2 separate regions of the Homo sapiens genome follow, and region 2 is linked to region 1. Evidence: fine-mapped expression QTL. A gene starts in region 1. The other region holds a variant in brackets. All regions are shown on one strand. Distances are from middle to middle.

The links. PIP is the estimated chance that this variant, and not a neighbour inherited with it, causes the effect.
Region 2: its variant is the best candidate, but not a certain one, in a credible set for the expression of RAB40C in esophagus muscle (GTEx, PIP 0.78).

Annotation. Positions count from the first base shown.
Region 1 is chr16:587,845-593,039 of GRCh38, forward strand. RAB40C (RAB40C, member RAS oncogene family) reads left to right here and starts at 2,222. Exons shown (of 6, transcript NM_021168.5): 1 at 2,222-2,589. The coding sequence starts at 2,448. RefSeq lists enhancers at 543-742, 865-1,738 and silencers at 1,083-1,392, 1,713-1,772, 1,783-1,832, 1,903-2,022, 2,113-2,432.
Region 2 is chr16:615,036-620,230 of GRCh38, forward strand. RAB40C (RAB40C, member RAS oncogene family) reads left to right here. Exons shown (of 6, transcript NM_021168.5): 2 at 2,173-2,233; 3 at 3,165-3,225. It overlaps LOC124903618 (a long non-coding RNA gene), which reads right to left and starts at 1,229. Exons shown (of 2, transcript XR_007064934.1): 1 at 1-1,229. The variant T/A (reference allele first, on the strand shown) is at 2,756.

The sequences.
Region 1 (5,195 bases):
TAGCCCAGGCTGGAGTGCAGTGGCACAATCTCAGCTCACTGCAACCTCCGTTTCCCGAGTTTAAGCAATTCTTCTGCCTCAGCCTCCTAAGTAGCTGGGATTACAGGCACGTACCAACATGCCTGGCTCATTTTTGTATTTTCAGTGGAGAGGGGGTTATCACGATGTTGGCCAAGCTGGTCCTGACCTCAGGTGATCCACCCACCTCAGCCTCCCAAAGTGCTGGGATTACAGGCATGACCCACCGTGCCCGGCCTCAGAAAGCGTTTCTGATTTATGTTCTCAGGAAAGGAGGAGACGGCTGCTCACCACTATCCACCCCCCGCTTCCAGGCAGTCTCAGAAACCGAGGAGGAAACATCACATCTTTGGTGCTTCCCGTCCCTGGAGTGAGGGGCCTCAGGGACTTCACAGCCAGGGCTCAAGTCTGGGCACAATGACCTCTGAGCAGAAGAGGCTCTCCCTGACCCGCCAGGTTGTTTCCGGGTTAATGCCTGGGGAACTTGGCAAGGCGCCATCTCTACAAAAAATACAAAAGGTAGCCGGGCATGGTGGCGCCTGTAGTCCCAGCTACTCGGGAGGCTGAGGCTGGAGGATCGCTTGTGCCGGGGAGGTAGAGGCTGCAGTGAGCCGAGATCGCGCTACTGCACTGCAGCCTGGGCGACAAAGGGAGACCCTGTTTCAAAAAAGAAAAAACTGGTGCGTCGATGTGGTCGCCGCTTAGTCAGGCCATGTCTTCAGCTCTGGGGGACGGGAGGTCACTGGAGGTGTGGGGCTGCCCGTCCTGGCGTCCCTCTGTGTAAGCAGCACCTGCTCCCGGAGGCACAGCCCTGGTCGGGGCCCCTCTGGAGGAGGGTTCTTGCCGGGCTCTGCTCCTCGCCGGCGGGGCAGACGTGACGGGCTCCGCACCCGGTCTGGAGAGGGCTGCGCTGGGTCGGCGCTGACGTTACTGCTTTTACTTACGACTGTAACAGCGCTACTGAACGCAGAGCACGTATCACAAAGCTCACCCGTTCCGAGTGAGTAACTTCACCGAGAGAGGCAGGACCATCCCCACGACGGTAGGACCTTCTCGTCACCCCAGAAAGAACCACGTGCCCACTCAACCCCCGACCCCACGCCGGGGCCCGCGGACGCAGCCGCCTCGCTCGCCCACGCACCTGCGGCAGCCGGGCCCGGCAGGGACGAGGGCTCGGCGGCGCCCCCGGGAAGAGCGCGGTCCGGGCCCTGGGTCCCCGTCCAGGAGGCGCCGCTGCCGCAGTGAGCACGTCGGGCCGGGTCTTGAGCTCGCGCCGGCCGCGCTCCCCGCGTCCCGAGCTGTGGCGGCCGCGTCCCCGGGCGGAAGGCTCACGCTCGGTGACGCCGCGCTGTCCCAGAACCTCAGCGACTTTGCAGACTCACTGGTGACCCAACGGTGCGCCCCGCCGCCGCCGGGCGGAAGTCCCGCCCCTGCCCCGGAGAGGAAGTTCCGCCTCATCGAGCGCCGATTGGCCGCACCGCCTTAGAGAGGACGCGCCCGGGGCCACCCCGCCGCTCCCTCCGAGGGTTCTGCGGAAGCAGGCGGCACAGCCTGCGAGGGGCTTTCGTTTCCCGGACTCAGCCGCATCGCCTCGGCTCGGGCGCGCCTGCATCCTGCCGCCCGTCCGCGCGTTGAAGGGGCGGATACAAACAACGTGGACTTCCGAGCCCCTGATTGGCGAGCGTGTAGGAAAGGGGCGGGGTTAGCAGAGCCGTGATGGACATGCAAGCGACCCAATGGCGCCGGCGACGGGGCGGGCGAGGACAACGGCGTTGTGGGCCGGGGGCGGGGCGGCCGGCGGCTCTGGGATTTCTCTGGGAGGCAGCCGCAGGGAAGGGAATGATCTTGGTGAACTTATAATCGAACCAATGGTTCCGGGAAAGCAGGAGGCGAGTGGCCAATGGCGACGGCGATGAGGCAGGCGTCCGCTGTCTCCGCAACGCCGTGTGGGAAAGGCGGGGGAGGGGCGGTCATGACAGACGTGCAGACAGGCCAATGGCTGAGGGAAGGAGGGCGGCGGGCGACCTCTGGTGACTACGGGAAGGCAGGGCGGGGTGGTGAAGAGGCGGTGCGACCGGAGGTCTGGCGGCGCCGTGTGGAACGCCGTGAGGGCGGGGAAGTCGTGACGGACGGGCGGGTGGGCCAATGGGCTCGGGAGGGCGGGCGAAGGGTGGCCAATGGCGGCGGCGCGGCCGGGGGTGGGGCGGCGCGGCGGCCCTGGTGGTGCGGGAAGCGGCGGGGCGGCGGCGAGGCTGAGGTGCGCCCGGGCGCGGGCGGGGCGGGGCCGGCGCTGGGCTTCGGGCGCGCCCACTCGGCCGCCGTGGGGCGGACGCAACGGGCGCAGGTGCGGGGCGCGGGCTCTCTCACGCCGCGGCCTCACCCGGCGGTGCTTCGGCAGGCGGCCGGCGCGGGGCGCAGGCGGCGCGGCCATGGGCTCGCAGGGCAGTCCGGTGAAGAGCTACGACTACCTGCTCAAGTTCCTGCTGGTGGGCGACAGCGACGTGGGCAAGGGCGAGATCCTGGAGAGCCTGCAGGACGGCGCGGCAGAGTCCCCGTACGCCTACAGTAACGGTAAGGCCCGGCCCGCGGCGCGCGCTGCTACGCGGGGCCCGAGCCCGGCGAGCTGGGCACGGAGCTCGCCCTCGGCCCGGCCCTTCCAAGCGCCGCCGAACGTTCCCAGGAACGCCTTTGCCTGGCTTCCAGACTCGGTAGCTCGGTGGCTGCGGGGTGCCCGTGCTCCAGTCCCGAGGTGACGCCGGGGGGCAGGAGGACGGACCAGAGGGACGCGCCCAGCGGGGACGGTGCCATGGACCCGGGGTCTGGGGGACGGTGTCACGGGTCCGGGATCTCAGGGGAAGGTGTCATGGGTCCGGGATCTGGAGCCCAGGGGAAGGTGTCATGGGTCCTAGAGAAGGTGTCATGGGCCTGGGGAAGGTGTCATGGGTCTAGGATCATCTGGGGTCCGAGGGAAGGTGTCATGGGCTCGGGGGAAGGTGTCGTGGGCCGGAGGGAAGGTGTCATGGGTGCAGGATCTGGGGTCTGGGAGAAGGTGTCATAGGTCCGAGGGAAGGTGTCATGGGTCCAGGATCTGGGGTCCGGGGAAAGATGTCATGGTCCCGGTAGAAGGCGTCATGGGCCAAAAGGAAGGTGTCATGGGTCTAGGATCATCTGGGGTCCGAGGAAAGGTGTCATAGATCTGGGGGAAGGCATCATGGTCCTAAGGGAAGCTGTCATGGGTCTGGGATCATCTGGGGTCCGAGGGAAGGTGTCATAGATCTGGGGAAAGGTGTCATGGGTCTGGGATCTCAGGGGAAGGTGTCATGGGCCTAAGGGAAGGTGTCATGGTCTGGGATCTCAGGGGAAGGTGTCATGGGTCTAGGATCATCTGGGGTCTGAGGGAAGGTGTCATAGATCTGGGGGAAGGCATCATGGTCCTAAGGGAAGGTGTCATGGGTCTGGGATCATCTGGGGTCCGAGGGAAGGTGTTATAGATCTGGGGAAAGGTGTCATGGGCCCGGGGAAGGTGTCACGGACCCAGGTCTGGTGGCAGGTGCTGCTGGGCTGCTCTTGGGACCCTGTCTCGAGCGTGCACAGATGACAGGTCCTTATAGGCACGCTGTTCCCCTGAGGTATTTGCTTACTGCTGAGGGAGTCAACGCTTTGTGCTAGAAGAAAATACCTCTGTAATGAGTTACTGAACATTTGTTTTGTTTTGTTTTCTTTTCTTTTCTTTCTTTTTTTTTTTTTTGAGACGGAGTCTCACTCTGTCGCCAGGCTGGAGTGCAGTGGCACAATTTCAGCTCACTGCAACCTCCGCCTCCTGGGTTCAAGCGATTCCCCTGTCTCAGCCTCCCGAGTAGCTGGGACTACAGGTGTATGCCACCACGCCCGGCTAATTTTGTTGTGTGTATTTTAGTAGAGACGGGGTTTCAGCATGTCGGCCAGGATGGTCTCAATCTCCTGACCTCATGATCTGCCCACCTCGGCCTCCCAAAGTGCTGGGATTACAGACGTGAGCCACTGCGCCTGGCCTGAACGTTTGTTTTTAACTTCCAGTGGCATGGCTAAAATACACTAGATAGGTGGCATCACTGGGGCTTGCCTGCCTGAGCATGCCTCTTAATTTAGGTGGTTAACAGAGTGAGTGAGACGGTGTGGTCCTCATCCCCTCTCATGGGGGCCTGGACCCAGCCGAATGGGATGTGGCCCCAGATGAACTGGGAGCAGTCAGCATCCAGCCTCCCCAGAGTCCATCTGCGCTTCAGGGAATGCCATCTACGCTGGCGAACTTACCTCTCCTGGTCCCTGCCCTCTCCCCTTGCTTTGTTTCTTGGGCTCTTGTCCGTCCTGTCTGACTGCCCTGAGCGTCTGCTATTTGCTGAATTGTCTGCCTTTGGCTGCTGAGAGTGTGGGCGCAGCATCCCCCACTCTCTCAACTCGGGGGTTGGCAGAGCGTGGGATTACCTGGACTGAGGCTGAGCGCGCTTCCTCCTGGCATGGCTTCAGCAGTGGGCAGCAGCACCGGGGGCTCTGGAAGCTTGTGCTCCTGGCTTCAGCCTGGAGGAGGGGTTGGAAAGGGCCAGGGAGGAAGAGCTCTGTGTCCATTTTGAGGTGGGGGAAGTGTAAGGCCCACTGGGGCATTGGGGGCTCACACGTTAGGCCCCTGCACCTGCCGCCTCCTGGTCCTGCACTTGACAGTGACTGCCCCAGAATTGGTAACTCCTGACTCAGGTGGTGGGCGGCCAAGTTGATTGTGAAGGTGGCGTTGCCTTCTAAAGCTTGGCTCCAGGGGCGCTGCGCACTCCCAGGAGGCTGGCGGCGTGCGTGTTTGTGCATGTTCAGAAGAGCACGGGAAGGATTGGGTTTCATCAATCGGTGTTTTCCCAGGACATGAAGGCGTGCTTCTGAGGGCCGGCTCAGCCATGCTGGCCAGCTCGCCTACCCAACTGCACCACACAGCCAGGAGCTGGAGAGACAGGACCCTCCTTCCTCCCTGTCCCCTTCGTCGGGCTGTGGGGCATTGCCACACTTCCTCTGACATGCTCACTGAAGTGGGGCCAGTATTGTGTAAGACGTGGAGACCTGCCTGCTTGCAGAGACTTCAGAGGCTCACAGTGGCTTGGACCAGAGGCAGAGAGGAGAGTCCACTCTTAGAAAGACACCACGTGCTCTCAGGG
Region 2 (5,195 bases), 27 kb after region 1:
TGGAAACGAGGACCCGAGGGAGACCATCCGTCCATCCTAAAATTGGGACGTTTGGTTTTCTGTTGTTGAGTTGGAGTTATTTGTAGAGTCTAGAGATCAGTCTCTAGGAGACGTGTGATCTGCAGACATTTCCCTCCATCTCTGGGTTGCATTTTTCTGTCCATTGATGGTGTCCTTCGATGCATGAGAACAGCCTTTGATGTACATGTAGGGGTTGGTCAGGCAGAAGGACGGTGTGGGTGGAAGCGCTGATGCCTGAAGAAGGGCACCGTAGGCAGAGAGACCGCATGGCTGGCTTGCAGGGCTGGGCCCGCACGGAGAGACAGATGTGCACAGACACACACACAAGCCCACTGGGCAGGTGCACTCCGTGGGAGGGCGTCGCTTATGTTTAAAAAGTGCCCGTTTCCAAGCCCCTTGGAGAAAGTGTCATAAAAAGACAAAACGTGAATGGTGTTTCTAAGGTGGGGGAAGGGGCTGAGCCCTAAAGGTAGAAGCTTCTGGAAAGTTTCCAGAGGGCCCAGAGCCTGTTTAAGATGTCGTGCCTGCGTTAAGTGTCCAGAACTGTCTGCTCCTTTCAGTTTCTCTTGGACTGACCTTTTCCTATAAAACTGTAAGGAAATAAAAAGTAATGATGTGATGTGGGCCGGGCACGGTGGCTCACACCTGTAATCCCAGCACTTTGGGAGGCCAAGGCGGGCGAATCACCTGAGGTCAGGAATTTGTGACCAGCTTAGCCAACGTGGCAAAACCCCGTCTCTACTAAAATTATAAAAATTAGCCGGCTGTGGTGGTGGGCACCTGTAATCCCAGCTACTTGGGAGGCTGAGGCAGGAGAATCGCTTGAACCCGGGAGGTGGAGGTTGTAGTGACCCGAGATTGTGGCACTGCACTGCAGCCTGGGCGACAGAGTGAGACTCCATCTCAAAAAAGAAAAAAAGGCCGGGTGCAGTGGCTCACGCCTGTAATCCTAGCACTTTGGGAGGCTGAGGCGGGTGGATCATGAGGTCAGGAGATCGAGACCATCCTGGCTAACACGGTGAAACCCCACCTCTACTAAAAATACAAAAAATTATCCGGGCATGGTGGCGGGCGCCTGTAGTTCAGCTACTCAGCAGGCTGAGGCTAGATAATGGCGTGAACCCGGGAGACGGAGCTTGCAGTGAGCAGAGATCGCACCACTGCACTCCAGCCTGGGTGACTGAGCAAGACTCTGTCTCAAAAAAAAAAAAAAATACCAATGTGGCAGGCAGGCTGGTGGCTGTCTGAGGTCAGTCCAGAGTCCGGAGAAGCAGCATTTTATTTATTTATTTATTTATTTATTTATTTATTGAGTACTGTCACCCAGGCAGGAGTGCAGTGACATGATCTCGGCTCACTGCAACCTCCACCTCCCAGCTTCAAGTGATTCTCCTGCCTCAGCCTCCCGAGTAGCTGGGATTAAAGGTGCCCACCACCACACCTGGCTAATTTTTTGTATTTTTAGTAGAGACGGGGTTTCACTGTGTTGGTCAGGCTGCTCTCAAACTCCCGACCTCATGATCCGCCCGCCTCGGCCTCCCAAAGTGCTGGGATTACAGGCGTGAGCCACCGCGCCCGGCCAGAAGCAGCATTTTTAAACTTGTTTGGCCCTCCCTAACACCAACCTTGGCAGTTCCTGGGCTGCAGTAAGCCGAGACTTGGAAATACATTCGCCTTGGAGAATTCAACTTCAAAATGCATACGAAGTAGGTCAGGGTGGAAATAAAGGCACTGCCCTTTCTCCAGGCACGCTGGAGTCCACGCCCTGCCTTTGCCCAATGCCCTCTGAGGGAGAGGCCCTGTGCCTTGCACCCAGCGCGGGCCACAGGCGGAGGCCCCATTCCAGGCAAGCCGTGCCCATGGAGAGGCTGGCCTGCTAGGCTGTGGGGCCCGATGGCCTGACACTGTATGGACCACGCTCCTGCCCTGCCCTGCCCCGCCCTGCCCGTGGCCCGTGTGCAGAAGTGGGCAGGCCTGGGTTGCTGGGCCAGAGCCCCGAGATTTCCCCCTGCCCCACTGGCTGAGTGTGGGGGAGCTGCTTCTCCACTTCCGCGTGGGTCTTGGCCCTGGGAGGCCAGTGGCCGAGGCTGGTCTCGCGGGCGCTCGCTCCAGGAGTGGCGCGTCCCCTCAGCGCCCTGTGCTTCCTCGCAGGGATCGACTACAAGACCACCACCATCCTGCTGGACGGCCGGCGCGTGAAGCTGGAGCTCTGGTGAGTTGGGGCTGCGGCACTTCAGTTCCTGGGTGAGGACACAAATGCCGAAGGGAGAACAGAACCCTTAGAGAAACAGGAAGGCGTCCTGTTTGCATTTCACTTGGAAGAGCCACTTACACAGCCCCTGTTTAAACATAGAATGGATTTTACTCCAACAGGAAAAAGACAGTCTGGGACACTGTGTCCCTAGAGATCGCGGCTCCCCTCCTGCCCCGGAAAACCTGATTCCGTGGTGGCTGTGAGCCCCTTCCCTCCCCTTCTGTCGGCTTCACCTTAAAAAGCATTTCCCAGCGGGGTGTGGTGGCTCACGCCTGTCATCCCAGCACTTTGGGAGGCCGAGGCAGGAGGATCACCTGAGGTCAGGAGTCCAAGACAAGCCTGGCCAACATGGTGAAACGCCATCTCTACTAAAAATACAAAAATTAGCCAGGTGTGGTGGCGGGCGCCTGTAGTCCCAGCCACTCAGGAGGCTGAGGCAGTAGAATCACTTGAACCCGGGAGGCAGAAGTTGCAGTGAGC[T/A]GAGATTGCACCACTGCACTCCAGCCTGGGTGACAGAATGAGACTCCGTCTCAAAAAAGAAAAAAAAAAAAGCATTTCCCAGAACGTCAGCGTTGATGAGACGTGAATGTCCACAGGGTTGGGGTTCCCCAGCCTGGCAGGACAGTCTCCTGGAGCTCCCAGGCTCATGTGAGGAGCTTGCTCACTCCCCAGGTGGGCGGGGGCCCCTTCTGCTGCCTGCCTGGCTCAGCGGCACGGCGCCAGGCTGCTGTGACCTGTGCAGACAAAGCCGCTTAGCACAGCCTCATTGGCACCTGTCCTGGCCGCCCCGCTCCCCTCAGGACATCCAGGTGGGTCGGCAGAGGAGGGAAGGAGGTGAGCCTCTCACAGGGACCACAGTCCCGGCCCCTCCCCTCCCCGTATGTTTCAGGGACACGTCGGGCCAGGGCCGGTTCTGCACCATCTTCAGGTCCTACTCCAGGGGCGCTCAGGTAAGACCAGCACCGCTCTTTCCATTGCTTTTCAAAGGATGTTTCTCCTGATTCTTTCTGAATGTGAGTTGTTGTCCTGTCAAACTCCCAAGGACTTTCTTTCTTTATAAGGATATTCTCACATTGGTTTGTTTATTTGTTTGTTTTGAGACAGAGACTCACTCTGTCACCCAGGCTGGAGTACAGTGGCACAGTCTCGGCTCACTGCAGCCTCCCCCTCCCGGGTTCAAGCGATTCTCCTGCCTCAGCCTCCCCAGTAGCTGGGAGTACAGGCGCAGTGGGTGTACTTGGAGCTGTGTGTGTGCACAGGTGTAGTGGGTGCACTCAGGGCCATGTGTGTGTGCAGCCATGTGCACAGGTCTGGCGGGGGCACTGGGGCCATGTGTGCAGTGTGTGCGCAGGTGTGGTGTACTTGGAGCTGTGTGTGTGCACAGGTGTAGTGGGTGCACTCAGGGCCATGTGTGTGCAGGCATGTGCACAGGTCTGGCGGACGCACTGGGGCCATGTGTGCAGTGTGTGCAGGTGTGGTGTACTTGGAGCTGTGTGTGTGCACAGGTGTAGTGGGTGCACTCGGCCATGTGTATGTGCAGGCATGTGCACAGGTCTGGCGGGGGCACTGGGGCCATGTGTGCAGTGTGTGCTCAGGTGTGTACTTGGAGCTGTGTGTGTGCACAGGTGTAGTGGGTGCACTCAGGGCCATGTGTGTGCAGGCATTTGCACAGGTCTGGCGGACGCACTGGGGCCATGTGTGCAGTGTGTGCAGGTGTGGTGTACTTGGAGCTGTGTGTGTGCACAGGTGTAGTGGGTGCACTCGGCCATGTGTGTGTGCAGGCATGTGCACAGGTCTGGCGGGGGCACTGGGGCCATGTGTGCAGTGTGTGCTCAGGTGTGGTGTACTTGGAGCTGTGTGTGTGCACAGGTGTAGTGGGTGCACTCAGGGCCATGTGTGTGTGCAGGCATGTGCACAGGTCTGGCGGGGGCACTGGGGCCATGTGTGCAGTGTGTGTGCAGGTGTGGTGTACTTGGAGCTGTGTGTGTGCACAGGTGTAGTGGGTGCACTCAGGGCCATGTGTGTGTGCAGCCATGTGCACAGGTCTGGCGGGGGCACTGGGGCCATGTGTGCAGTGTGTGTGCAGGTATGGTGGGTGCGCTTGGCCACCCTCGTTTCTGTCTCCTCTGGGCCCCCAAGCACGCTTTTGTGCTGACTGGATCTGCTGGCGAATGTGAGGCCGGAAGGAGGGCAAGGACGTGAAGCCCATGTAAACAGACCTGTCATGGCCACTGTTGTTGCTGCTTCAGTGGGAGGGATTTGAGCGGGTCTGTCCTGTCTGTGATGCCCCTAAGAGTTCTGGAAGAGCCAGGAGAGCCCCTCCGGGGCCAGTTCGTGAGCCTGGAGCCCCCCATGTGGGCCCAGGGAGGCCGCCTGGGTCTGGGTCTGGATCCTTCTTGGGGGAAGGTTCAGGTCTGTGCCATGCAGCTTCTGGCTCAGGTGGGTCCGCTCTGGGCAGGAAGCTGCCCAGGTGCGAGGGGGATGGACACTGGAGCTTCGTCCCATGGCAAGCTCATTTCCTTCCATTTCTACACTGAAGTGTAGTCGGTGTTGGATCTGATGTCTTCTACCTGCTGGCGGTGGGTGGGAAGGACGCCAGGGCGGGCTGGGTCGCACCCTGTCCTGGGAGTTCCCTCGGAGATGTTGGCAGCTCCCTCATGGGAGCAGAAGGGCCTGCAGGCTCCGTGCCATCCCTGTGAGAACTGGAGCAACATGGCCGTGATTCGTGGAGCAGGCAGGTGGAAGACGGGCAGGCTCAAGGATGCATTCCATGGGCCCTGCCTGCTATTGAAAGAGGAGTTGGGGCTGGTGCGGTGGTTCACGCCTGTAATCCCAGCACTTTGGGAGGCCAAGGCAGACAGATCACGAGGTCAAGAGTTGGAGACCAACCTGACCAACATGGTGAAACCCCATCTCTACG